2 separate regions of the Homo sapiens genome follow, and region 2 is reported to be linked to region 1. Evidence: microRNA targets listed by miRTarBase, many of them from high-throughput screens and not tested one by one. Region 1 holds a microRNA gene; the other region holds the end of a gene's coding sequence.

What was found. The annotated mature microRNA hsa-miR-5687 reads UUAGAACGUUUUAGGGUCAAAU and lies in region 1 at 2,168-2,189, shown strand. An mRNA with a match to its seed (bases 2 to 7 or 8) in the 3' UTR can be bound and repressed. Matches are read on the target gene's strand: a 7mer-m8 pairs with bases 2 to 8, a 7mer-A1 pairs with bases 2 to 7 and ends in A, and an 8mer does both.
Region 2: the mRNA of PURB is a reported target of hsa-miR-5687. The part of its 3' UTR that is shown has no 7-base or 8-base seed match.

What each region holds. Positions count from the first base shown.
Region 1 is chr5:55,508,048-55,511,047 of GRCh38, reverse strand. MIR5687 (microRNA 5687) reads left to right here and starts at 2,122; the gene lies at 2,122-2,198. The region is part of intron 1 of PLPP1 (phospholipid phosphatase 1); the gene reads left to right.
Region 2 is chr7:44,881,931-44,884,930 of GRCh38, forward strand. PURB (purine rich element binding protein B) reads right to left here. Exons shown (of 1, transcript NM_033224.5): 1 at 1-3,000. The coding sequence ends at 2,480. Among named protein-coding and RNA genes, the nearest start is that of MIR4657, 1.6 kb to the left of the region's middle. RefSeq lists an enhancer at 2,672-3,000.

The DNA.
Region 1 (3,000 bases):
TGTTGTGATAGGTTTATATATGTATAAGGTCCATGGGGGCTCGGAAAGAGAGCAGGGGTTGTGAGGGCAGTAGGCAGGGAAGAAAGATCAGGGAGTAAGCATTTATTAATCCTCTTAATGTGCCAGGCACTAAGTTAGGCACATTACTAGGCTCTTAGTTTGCAGCAGTTCTGGGAGGTATGTACACAGTATTATTCTTACTTACCAGATGAGGAAACTGAGCTCAGACAGGTAAGTAATTTGCCCAAGCTCCCACAAGTAGTAACTGGGAGAAAGCCAGAAGTAAACCCAGCCAGATATACTTGACTACCCAACTCTGTCCAGTACTCCACCCTGGCACACCAAAGGATTGGTTCCACCAGTAGCTGAATGGAAGCTAGAATGGCAAGTAGGCATTAGCTAGGTGGAGGGGGTGGGGTCATTGTGTAGAGCATGTCAAGAGGTTTGAAATAGGTATGAGGAGTAGGTGAGATGAGGCTTAAGCTAAAATTTAATTGTTGTGTTTTAAAAATGTATAGTAAGATTGACTCATTTAGTGTACAGTTCTGTGAATTCAGATAATATGGAATTTAGTCCTGTAACCAGATACAATCAAGATACTGAATTGGTGTGTTACCTCCCTGAGTGCCCTCATTCTTCTTCTTTGTAGTCAGCTCCTCCCACCAGCCTTGACTTTTGGCAAACAGTGATGTGTTCTCTATCCTATATGTCATATAAATGGAATGTCATATAATGTCATATAAATGGAATCATAAAGGCTATATAGTATGTAGCCATTTGAGTCTAGTCTCTTTCACATAGCATAATGCGTTTTTGATTATGCCAAGTACTGTGATGTAAATGTTACTGTACAGTTTTGCTGTAGGTTTTTGTCCCTTTCTAAATGTGCTTATATCACTTCTAACCCTAGTTCCATGTAAACAGAATGTTTTTTGGCAAAGAAGTTATTAAGTTATAGCTTCAAATACCATGGAAGCCCTAAATAGTTTCCCGATAAGTGGCCAGGAGAAAGTACAATTGAAAAAAATCAGCTGTCTCTCCCAGTACCCTTTACCTCAGTTATCTCCTTGCTTTTGACATATAAAAATCACGTGGCCGGTTTACTACTGATTGTGACCTTTGCCATCTTAAAAGGGAAGAGAAAGAAAGCGAACAGCTGTACCATGAGGGAGTGGAAGGAATTAATGTTGTTCTTGGCCAGTTGGCACTGTTTTCTTGTGCCTTTCTGGGAAGGGAACAACAGGTGAGAAGGTTTGCTTTTTGTTTTTGTTAGTGTATAAATAAATAGGTTAACTTGTTTTTTATTTGTGTGGAAATGTGAGAGTCCATAGTGAAGTAACTTGCCCTAATAGCTCGTGATTTTTTAAAAGCTCATTAAATATATACACAAATTTATTTTAAGTGTCTTAATGAACTAAGCTACTCCAAGGTTGAGGATATTGTAGGCAATTACTGACGTAAAACTACAAATGTAAAAACCATCTTTGGTAAGTGTCACTTATATCCTATATCCCAACTGCTTTTTCTCCCTTTTATCCTAATTTTAAAATAAAAAAGAAAAGATAACGAAGAACTTTTTATAATAAAACCATGTCAGCCACAGAGAGATGGTGACTGTAAGCTAAGTGACCAGAATGTAGGTGCCTCTAAAAGTTGAGGGTGCACTGTTCTTTGAATTCTTGCCTGTTAACACTTTTCATAACATCTCTGTGAATCACACTCAAATATACTGTACAGTGCTATCACTGATACCTCTCACCTGCCACCAGGCTCTGCCCCTTCCCTACCAATACCTTGCACAAATTCATTGTCCTGAAGCACAGCTTTCTTGCTCAAGAACCAGTGTTGATTTTTCATTTCTTATTGAAACATACACAAATTGTTTACCTGAAATTGAAAACCTTCATGCTGTAGTTTTGCTTTGCCCATTCACATTTATTTCTCTTTGTTACTCATTCCCCTCTACGTTACTTTAGTGAAATCATCCTGTTTTTTAGTTGTCTAACAGCAGATTGAGTTCAGTTACCAATTTTTAAATTCAGTTCTAATTCCATTTCACATTGTAGTTGTTTTGACTAGTTTTTTTCTACTCTATTAAAAGCTCTAGTTGTTCTCTGCTCTCCTCACTTATCTGACTCTGAAATCTTCTAAATGGTACCCACTTTATTTAGAACGTTTTAGGGTCAAATAAGTACAGGTTGGAATCCTGAGTGCACCACTTAACTATTGAGGCTGACAGCCAGTGTACACCTGGGTCTTCACTTCCCCTGCCCCATGACTCTTCATTGTCTTAGTCCCTTCTATGGACCTCCCTATGATACCTCAGCTAAAAGTTTGAAGCAGAACCCAGCTCCTCTAGCACCAGCTAGTGTCTGTTCTGAGTGGCCGATGCTGGTACAAGTATGAGTTATTAAATATTTTTAATTTCACCCTGTTTATTATATGTATGATTTTAATTAAGTTACTTGTCCTTTCTGAGCCACTCCCAGATCTTTAAAATGGGGATAATAATACCTGTTTTGCAGGATGACTGTTCATTCATCAAATATTTGTTGAAGGCCTGCCTTGTTCTAGGCAATGACTTAAGTACTTGGGATATATTGGTGAACAAAACAGAAATGTCTGTGCCTTCTTGGATCATGTGTTTTAGAATTATGAGAATTAAATGAAAATAAATATTCAATATGGTGCCAGACACATAGAGGTGCCCACAGTGTCTTATCTCACTTTCTTCCTGCTTGCCATATCTTTTCCATCAGGGCCAAAGAGAATGGGAAGTGGGAAGAAATAAACTTCATATTTCATTTGTATAGCTGTGGAGAGTAGCAGGCCCTGGGTCCCTTTGGGGAGGTCATGCGAACTGGGCATGGCCTTCTGTCAAGAATTATTAGACCAGGCATGGTGGCTCATGCCTGTAATCCTAGCACTTTGGGAGGCTGAGGCAGGAGGATTGCTTGAGGCCAGGAGTTTGAGACCAGCATAGCCAACATGGTGAAACCC
Region 2 (3,000 bases), not on the chromosome of region 1:
AACCCCTTAAAAAGGAGAGGTACTGCACCTTTGCAAAATTGAACTGGCTCACTGCAGCTGAGCAACAGAACCACCACTGAAGCAAGAAAACAAGTTGGTCTATACAAGAATTGTACATGGTTTGAAAATGAAAAAGTTACAGCAATCAACTAATAGCTGCAACTTAAATTTTCATTGCTGCCTCAGAGTTGAAACTTAAATAGTTTCTGCAAACCTAATGCTAGCTTCTCAGCTCCTTTACTAAAACTATTTAGGAATTTGTTCTCCGCAGCAAAGAAATAGACACTCAAAACACGTAGGTAAATACAGCAGGACATTATTGAAAAACAGCTGCCTTGTAGTACAAAATACAGTACAAGTATACGGATGTCATTAAAACATCAAAAATACTATTGCTCCCATACAATTTAGGAAACATTCTTTGCAACGGAGAAAAATTTAAAAGAAAAGCTTTAAAAAAATCTGTTTAAAAATTCTACTGTGGATGATGAGAGTAGAGAAATAGTCTGAAAAGGGCACCAATGTTTGTGGCTCTTCCACTTTTTAATCTAAGATCAACAATATTCTGCATCATAATCTATTTTTTTAAAAAAGCCTAATTTTATGTACACAATTATTTCCCGCCCTCTCAGCCACAAATACATGAAAACCTTTTTGTATATTACTCATTTCCCAATAAATACAAAAAGATTGTATAGATTGAATAATACCAAAATAAGATAATAAAAAGGATATGCAATAAATTAAAAAGGCAGCTCAAATAAGGGGCAGGCATGCAGTTTAAAAAAAATACTAAGATTGTGGAGGCGGGGTTACTTGCCTCCTGGTTGAGAAGGTGTCACACAAAGAATACCTGAAAACTTTGGAAAGAACGTTAGCTCCCATTCAATTCAAAGTTACCTAGGTCTATGACATTTCTAGGAATACCTTTTGATGGGGTGGGATTAACTTGATTAGTAAAAATCATTTCTACTGAAAATCCATTTAAAATATAGAAGAGGCGATCCTTGAAAACCCCAACTTTTATTCTTGAAAGACAGCTGGATTAACTGGCAAAAGCCAGTTTGTTGAAATTTCAAGATGGTATAAAAATGCTTCCAGGATATAGTCAGCATATTCACGTTCACTTCAGTTCCATTCACAGATGGATTTCAGCTTCCACCGGGTGCACTGCTTGAATCACTCATCCATCATTTGCCAACTCTGATTGTGAGGTACTGATACAATGGATCAAGTTCTTAAAAATTTTAAAAGAATAAATGATGCTGGAATTCTGGACCTGAGGATCTTTAGTATTTGAACAAATCCACAGATTAAACTGAAGGTAAATTAAGACTTCAGTTTTGGTTATTTCCAACTTTTCTGTGAGGATGTATATCCATTAAAGCTCAGGCTTATAGCCACACTGTTACTTTTGTAGGTAATCTTCAAGTTTTATGGTTTAAAATCCAGCCAACCAGTGGCTGTAACAGCCGAATTAGCCATAATTCACTGGCTCACACAGTGGAGATCTGGCTCTCATTCATACCAAAGCATTTCTTGGTAATGACCTCCATATTTAGAGATCAGGGGAACAACTTTAGTGAGCAGCAACCAATCCACTCAAACAGTCTGCCTTGTGCTTTATGCCTGACTTTTTCTTGTGCCTACCTCAGCAACCCCCAATGTAAAACTGCTTTTATCTTTGAAAATTTTTTGTCAACTTTGAAACTATTTTAGTAACGGATTCTACTCCAAGCATTGCTATCTGAATCCACTGGCATCCTGGAAAACAATTCTGCGAAGAAAAGACATTTGCCTTGGTCCAGGTTCCATGCAAAACCATTTTTTTAAAAAAATGGATCCAATTTGGTTCTGTATTCTTAGATGGCTTCTTGAAATCTTATCTTTAACCTGTTCATGATTATCCCAAGTTGCATTTCTTTTCGTGAACCTGAACCCTCAGAACTGGGTAATTGTAAAGGCCTCTCTTCTCAAGGATTCCATGAAGACCTAGATCCAAAATGCTGATTTCAATGGAGGTGAAGGGATAGACACCGCAACAGTGAGGCCTAGAGAGATCTTTTATGCCAGATTACCCAGGTGCAACCTAAATGCAACTGTTATCAATGGTCTGGGTAACTTGGACATGTTTCTTGCCCTGGATGTGCAAGGATCTATTCCCTCCAGGGATTATCCTGATGGGTTTACGAACCTCAGTTGAGAAACAACAGAAGCTGAGACAATTTTACGCAGGTGAGGAGATGCTGTTTTCCTCTTTGCAGGTTGCTGTCAGTTCCTTGGAACTTGACTGCTTTTCTCAAGTTGTCCGTCACTGTTCTCTTACGATTATTTCTCTTAACTGTGTTACGTTTTGTTTTTTCCCTCTGCGGCCTCCCTTGCTCCCTCTCCACTAGCTCACTGGGGATGAGCAGGAAAGGGAATTCTCTAGCCAAGGGGATGGTGGTTGGGTGGAGGCCTGTAGGGGAAGCTGCCCGTTTCAATCCTCATCCACCTCCTCACCCTCTGACTCTTCGCCGCCGCCGCTGCCCCCACCACGTCGCTCATAAAGCTTATCCCTCTGTCGTTCCTGGATTTCTTTCATCTCATCCGCATACCGGCAAAAGGCGCCTCCGAACTTGCCCCAGGCTTTGAAGGGTACGGTGATGGCATTGCGGTAGGACGGCTTCACCTCGCTCACTCGCAGAAACACCCCGTATTTGTTGCAGCCCACATCGAAGAAGAAGCGCTTGGAGTCCACGGTGATGGAGGTGCCCTCCGGGAGCTCTCCATACAGGCCGCCCCCTGGGCCCCCGGCGCCGCCTCCCGGGCCGCCTGCCAGCTCGTCGTCCTCGCCTCCGTAGTCGTCTATGAGCTTCGCCAGCGCGTCGCGGAACTCGATGAGGCCCTGCGCAGGCAGCGCGATGGTCTGGCCGCTCTGCAAGCCGCCCGGCCCGGGGCCCGCGCCGAAGCCGCCACCGCCGCGGTTGACCGTTTGGCGGATGCGCAGGAAGCGGCCGC